2 linked regions of the Homo sapiens genome follow. The protein of the gene in region 1 interacts with the protein of each later gene in a pairwise test. Each region holds a gene or a part of one and is shown in the gene's direction. Other genes may lie near its edges. The genes, in order: RBMS1 and TFCP2.

Region 1 (3,830 bases):
AACCGAGATGAAGATTTTCATCAGTGTTACTTGGCCTTTCTATGGAGATTATAAATACTAAAGTGGTAGCACATTATTTGGTAAATAACAAATGTGATTTCTTAATGACGTGAGCATTCATATATATTACATTTTTTTAAATTGAATGAGTTATACTTATTATATAGTGTATTTCATGTGTTTTTCAAAGACACATAAGATCTAGTTTGTGGAAGAAGGGTTTGAAAATTTAAAAATACATATGGAGAACAAAGTTACAATAAGGCTAAGGATGTCCAACACAATGACCCTGCATGCTCACATGAGAAAATCACAAATTTGGCTCTAAGCTTTCTAGTAACTGATGCAAAATGGGAATCCTGGTAAGCAATACAGTTCACAATATGTGTAAAATAAAAACAGATTTGGTTGCTTAGAAAAAGAACTGTATTCTTGGCCTTATGTTCAGACAGCAATTTGTCTTCGGATACCTTTTAAAGTGGATACTGCGATGTAAGACCATGTATATGAAATAGCAATCCAGGGATAACAGGTTCTGAATGAGAAATTGCTGAGATGACCTTTAAGAAGCAGATAAAACATGTTTAGGTGATGAAATAGGAGAGGCGCGCTCTGATATATGTATACGTTTTGTGTGATATATACACATACATATAGATCTATACATGTGCACATACATAGACACATCTTCAAACCCACACTTACCTGTACATGTGTACATAATATACATGCACTGATCCACACATGCCCATAGCAATCTGTGTCCCTGATACTCCATGCTACCCTATTTTGGAATGCTTGGAAATCAGCTTGCTTTGAATTTGAGGACTTCCTATTACAGATGGTGCCAATGAATGAGAAAAAGGAGCAGGAAACTGCTCCACCATCTTCTAGGCTTCTGAGTCATTTCCGTGTTACCACTTGCTTTTTGATGATGCATGTTAAAAAAAAAATTTCTAACAGAATGTATTAATGACAAACATTATCTCTGACACACATCTATATCTTTTTTTCTTTTTGGCAACATTTGAGAAAAAGACTGCACGTATCTGAGCTTAACATCTTTGAGGAGACATTAGGAATGTAAGCAGAAGGTTGCTATCTGAGGATTCATTACCTTTCCCCACCCAGCTTTAAACTGCCTGATTTACATCAGAATTAAAGTTCCTGTACACCTAACTCTGTCCTAGATTGTCTATCTAATTATCAATAAATAACAGTTGTATTTAAGGGATGCCAGGTACAGTGATAACAAAACATACATTAGTAGTTACAGAGCGTGTCAGAATACTTGCATTCTCAGATAATGAGGTGATTGCAAAAGTCCAAAAATAAAGAGTTCATTGAATTTTGGTTTATACAATCAATGTAACCATTTAAAAAAATGATGATAATGATAGTTTTTCAACAAGCTAGGTAAATGGTTAGAATAGAATGCAAAGTTAAGAGCAAAATCCCAGGATATGAAGTTGTTGATGTGCTCTGATTGAACCTGTACAGAAACACACAGAGGCTATGATCTGGCAGTAGTACCCTGACATTGCTAACAGTGGTTGTATTAGACTGGCTGAGTTAGAAGCAATTGTTTTTTTTTTCCCTCCTATTTTCCTAAATATATTTAATTTGATTTTAATGACTAACATTTTTTCAAATTAAATAAAAGAATCTGGACTCAGATTATTAATCATATCTGAATTGCCTTCCCTCCCAGGCACCAAAATGTAACTTAAAGTTCTGAGAAACACTGAGTGAATGAAGAAATGTGCTCTTGATCCTAACAACCTGATCTTGAACCAGACGATTATCTGGATAGAACATTGTTAAACAAAATACTATATTGATCTTATTAAATATAATACATTGTTTGGTGACTGGAGAAAACATCAACTGCCTTTTTTTTCCAGATTTTTTTTTAAGAAAGCGTTTTGTAACCCTAGGCAGGCAGTGATAATCAGTTTGTTTTTCCTATGATAGCTCCTCCTGCTGGACTAGCTTGCTTCCAGTTACTGGAAGTGAAGGGAAAGGGAAGGAGAAGAGGGACACTGGCTTTAATACAGGGATTGTTGTGAAGTGAATGCCAAGATATCATTTCCCCTAACGCTCTTAAAAAACTCTCAGGAAGAGCAATTTAGAAGATTTTTAGGAAACTGTTTATGATGCCATTTGCAAGATTGAGGAAGGTTGTTTTTGCTTCACATTCTTAAACAAACTAAGGTATTTCCTTTGTAAAAAGTAATTACAGGATCTTAACTCTTGCCTCAGTTTGTCTAATTTTGCTCCTGTCTCCAACTCCCCAGGGTGCCGTGTTAACTCCCTCAATGGAGCACACCATGTCACTACAGCCCGCATCAATGATCAGCCCTCTGGCCCAGCAGATGAGTCATCTGTCACTAGGCAGCACCGGAACAGTAGGTGGCAAATAATTATCATGTGTCTCTGTAAACAGAGGAGGGTAAATTAATGCAGCCTGTATCTTCCCTATCAAATGACAGCCTCTATGATAACAGATTATGTCTAATCCCCTCTCTTCCCCCCACATGACCTTCCATAAAGTAAATACTCAGCTATTTCTTAATTAATTGATGAACTGAAAGTCTATTCTCTGGGTATCTCTCCTTTACGAGAATATAGCACCCACACGTGACCACATCTAGCCTTTTATGACTAGTGTCATCTATATAACTAGTACCACTGTCCCTGTGGCAGTGTCATGAAGCGAAAGACGAAGGTAATACAAGATGGTAAAAGCAGGGAATTATTTCTCGCTTATTTCTTCTTTTATGGAGTTTGGGAGTATTGAATCATGGTCTTAATATTGAAATATTTCACCAAAGTCCAGGGGACTCCTTTGGGTAATGAGGTTGAGCTGGCACCAGATCAGCTTCCAGATTTGATGCTTAGCATTTTGCTGGTAAGATGGCTAAAGGATTTTAATTTAGCCTCTATTCTATAGTGGCTTAAAAGAACAAAGGGTGGTGCGTTTTCCCCTTATACACTCAAAACCTACAGCTGTTTCTTGTGAAGGCTAAGCCAGGGCCACACATATCCAATGAGACTGACTAGAAATTTCTCCTGCCTTTGGGAAAGGATGACTGTCAGTGTCAGAAAAGCCAGGCTCTGCTGCCTAATCTGCAGTGACCTGTTAGAGGTCTAATAAGTCTTACCCCTGTGGGCTCTACCTGTAGAAACAATACTAGGTACTAGTTTAGGGGGCTGCTAGAAAATAATGAGGTCCTTTGAGGAGAGATCTTCTAAAATCACACATTAGTGATACTGAATTATTGAGAGTGACAAACTTTTTTATCTTCACCCATAATAAACTTTTTTTATCTTCACTTTGTTAGCAAATCCAAAGAAATGTGGAATTTTTAGTTTAGCAGATTCAAAAAGTAGAAAACAGTTTACCTTCCATATGACATATTTATATGCACTATTTAAGCTTTGAGGTGTAGCCCATTTAAATTTCTTCTTTGAGATTTCCAAATACATTATATCCATCTCACAATCCCCCCACGTACTCCAAATTTTGCATGGTTTACCATTGCCCATTCTGACCTCATTCTTCTTTCTAGTACATGCCTGCAACGTCAGCTATGCAAGGAGCCTACTTGCCACAGTATGCACATATGCAGACGACAGCGGTTCCTGTTGAGGTTGGTAGAGACCATCCAGTGACCATTCTGGCTATAAGTAGTTTCAGAAATGGGTAAATTAAATAGAACTCAGAAAAATCTACCAGACGTCAAATATTTGCATAAAGAATTGCGTTTAGCCAGATGTGGTGGGTCATGCCTGTAAGTCCAACACTTTGGAAGGCTGAGGAGGGAGGA
Region 2 (3,830 bases), on another chromosome or scaffold:
TGGGTTGCTTTTTTACTGTGTTGATACTATCCTTTGATGCACTAAAGTTTTACATTGAGGTGGTCCAATTTATCTAATTTTTTTTAATTCCCTGTGCTTTTGGTGCCACATCCAAGAAATCATTGCCAAATTCAGTGCCAAGAAGCTTTTCCCATATGTTTTCTCCTAAGAGTTTTATAGTTTTAGGTCTTATATTCAGGTCACAGGTCCATTTTGAGTTCGTGTTTGTATATGGTACAACCATATACAAAAAAGGTTGTATGGTAAACCATATACAGAAAGAAGGGCCCAACTTCATTCTTTTGCATGTGGATACCCAGTTTTCTCCACACCGTTTGTTGAAAAGACTGTTCTTTCCCCCACTGAATGGTCTTGCACCCTTGTCAAAACTCATTTGACCATATATTTGAATACTTATTTGTAGGCTGTCTATTCTATTCCATTTGTTTAAATGTCTGTCTTTATGCCTATACCTCACTATTTTGCTAAGTGTAGCTTTATAGTCAGTTTGGAAGTCGTGAAGCATGAGAACTCCAACTTTGTTCTATTTCACGATTGTTTTGGCTGCTCAGGATCTGATATTTTGTTTTGCGTTTGTAAAGAGGGGCAGACTTTTTTCCCCAGCATGCTGAAAGTTCCTTCATTTTACTAGTGCCTGAGAACCAGGCACTATAAAGTGGGAGTTCTGGTATTAGAAGCTATGTCACTTGGTTTGCAGTTAAGTTGTGTCTTCCCACGTTGCTACACAGAGTAGAATTTGTTTTTCCTAAGTCATAGGGTATAAAGGAAAGATCTTCACAAATACACATGCAGTCACTTTTCATGGTGTCTGCCTCTCTGATTTCTAATTGGTTAAAATTTCCTTTTGGTAAACATAGTTGTTAAGAAAAATTTAACTGCTACTAATTTTACCTGAGAAAACATTGGTTCTCATGCAGTGATCCTGATATCTGTATGATAAGTTGACCTTAAGATGAATCTAACACAACTAATATTGTGGAGTGGGACCCACTTGATGCTCTATTGTTTGAATCATTGATACCAAAACAGTAGTATAGTTAATACCACAGTTCTGATAATACATATTACCTGGCCTTAACTCCCCAGTTTGATCATTAATAGGAGAAATCAGGGAATGCTATTTGAATATCTGCTGTGTGGAATGGAAAGAAAAGTTCTACTCAAACCCATTAATTCTTGCTTCCCTTTTAAGTAAAGATTTGTCACTCTGTTATAGGATTATTTGATGACTTGGTAAGTCAGCATCAACCATCTTTTTTTTTTTTTTTTTGAGACAGAGTCTTGCTCTGTCATCCAGGCTGGAGTACAATGGCATGATCTCGGCTCACTGCAACCTCTGTCTCCCGGGTTCAAGCCATTCTCATGCCTCAGACTCCTGAGTAGCTGGGATTATAGGCATCCACAACCACGCCCAGCTAATTTTTATATTTGTAGTAGAGACAAGTTTTCACCATGTTGGCCAGGCTGGTCTCGAACTCCTGACCTCAAATGATCCACCCGCCTTGGCCTCCCAAAGTACTGGGATTGCAGGCGTGAGCCACCACGCTTGGCCTGCATCAATCTTTATGTTAAAATTTTCCCACTTTCATTCATGATATAATGCTTTCTACCTTCATATAGACACTCTGCTGCACCCCTTCAATAGCAATACTCTTAATGTGCTTTTGGCAATGAAACTAATTTTCAAACTGTAGTTGAAATAGATTATAAATTACAGTTTTCATGATAGTGTAGACTTAATCCACCTTAAATAGGATTTTAACAAATTAAAAGGAAACTGCCTTTAAATTGCCATATTTTAAGCTAGAAGGAGGATACTAAACATTCCCAACACAAAGAAATGACAGATGTTTGAGACAATGAATATGCTGATTACCCTGATCTGATCACTATGCATTATATGTATTGAAACATCACTATATAGCCCATGAATATGTACAATTATTATTTCTCAATTTAAAAATGATTTTTTTGTTTTTCGAGACAGTCTTGCTCTGTCACCCAGGCTGGAGCACAGTGGCGCAATACTGGCTCACTGCAACCTCCGCCTCCCTGGTTCAAGCAGTTCTCTCTGCCTCAGCCTCTCAGGTAGCTGGGATTACAGATGCCCACTACCATGCCTGGCTAATTTTTGTATTTTTTAGTAGAGACGGGGTTTCGCCATGTTGGCCAGGCTGGTCTTGAACTCTTGACTTCAGGTGATCCGCTCACCTTGGCCTCCCAAAGTGCTGGGATAACAGGTGTAAGCCACCACGCCTGGCCTAAAAATAATTTTTTTTTTTGAGATGAAGTCTTGCTTTGTCACCCAGGCTGGAGTGCAGTGGCTCGATCTCCGGCTCACTGCAACCTCCACCTCCCAGGTTCAAGCAATTCTCCTGCTTCAGCCTCCTGAGTAGCTGGGATTACAGGTGTGGGCCACCACGGCCGGCTAATTTTTGTATTTTTAGTAGAGATGAGGTTACGTCATGTTGGTCAGGCTGGTCTCGAACTCCTGACATCATGATCCGCCTGCCTTGGGCTCCCAAAGTGCTGGGATTACAGGTGTGAGCCACCGTGCCTGGCCAAATAATTTTTTTAATTGCCGTATTTTAAAAACTTTTTAAAGAGGAAAAAAGGTGCTCAAGCAAAGTACTTAAGTCAATTTTACTCTAATCAAATATTTTCATTGACAAAAAAGAAATTTAAGGTGTGGGCTGGGCACAGTGGCTCAAGCCTGTAATCCCAGCACTTTAGGAGGCCAAGGTGGGTGGATAACCTGAGGTCAGGAGTTTGAGAGCAGCATGGCCAACATGGTGAAACCCCATCTCTACTAAAGATACAAAAAAATTAGCCGGGCGTGGTGGCACGGGCCTGTAATCCCAGCTACTCAGGAGGCAGAGGCAGGAGGATCGTTTGAACCCAGGAGGCAGAGGTTGCAGTGAGCTGAGATGGTGCCACTGCACTCCAGGCCTGTTACCACTGCACTCCAGCTTGGGCAACAGAACAAGACTCCATAAAAAACAACAACAACGACAAAAAAAAAAAACAAAGAAATTTAGGATGTGATATACAAAAATCTTGGTAGCTACATTGAGTAATATAAGAATCAATGCTTTCTTATTTAAAACTGAGTGGCCCTCAAAATTGTTCAATGATTACCATTTTGTTTCTCAGATATCCCGATGTCTGTGGGTATAATCGATCCTAGGGCTAATCCAACTCAACTAAATACAGTGGAGTTCCTGTGGGACCCTGCAAAGAGGACATCTGTGTTTATTCAGGTAAGGCGTTGCAGATAGGGTTCCAGTTTTGAAGAGTATCTCTCTTACTATCAGTTTATTTCTTAAAGGATAAAACATGTTAACTTTGAAATCTTTACAGGGTTCTAGCCTGACTGTCAAGCCCAGGCTCTTTAACCTGTGCCTGAGAGCATTGAGGAGTTTCTGAATTGCTCTTCTAATACCCCAGTTTATTTATTTGTGTCTCCCAAAATTGCTTGGTAATGGCTGCATAATATTTCATTTCTTGGTTGTACCATAATTTACATAACAATTATTTGGCAGTTAGATTGGCATAATTTTTTTGGGGGGGGACAGTGTCTAGGCTTTGTCTCCCAATCTGGAGTGGAGTGGTGCAATCTCGGCTCACTACAACCTCTGCCTCCCAGTTCAAGCGATTCTCTTGCCTCAGCCTCACCAGTAGCTGGGACTAGAGGCGCATGTCACCATGCCTGGCTAATTTTTGTATTTTTGGTAGAGGTGGGATTTCGCCATGCTAGCCAGGCTGGTCTTGAACTCCTGACCTCAGGTGACCCACCCACCTTGGCCTCC

What was found.
Region 2: the proteins of RBMS1 (region 1) and TFCP2 interact in binary tests that used the Homo sapiens proteins (3 or more experiments, as listed by UniProt).

What each region holds. Positions count from the first base shown.
Region 1 is NC_000002.12:160,277,126-160,280,955, reverse strand, and holds part of RBMS1 (RNA-binding motif, single-stranded-interacting protein 1), read left to right. Parts: intron 1-2,297; coding exon 2,298-2,408; intron 2,409-3,572; coding exon 3,573-3,653; intron 3,654-3,830.
Region 2 is NC_000012.12:51,110,328-51,114,157, reverse strand, and holds part of TFCP2 (alpha-globin transcription factor CP2), read left to right. Parts: intron 1-3,174; coding exon 3,175-3,281; intron 3,282-3,830.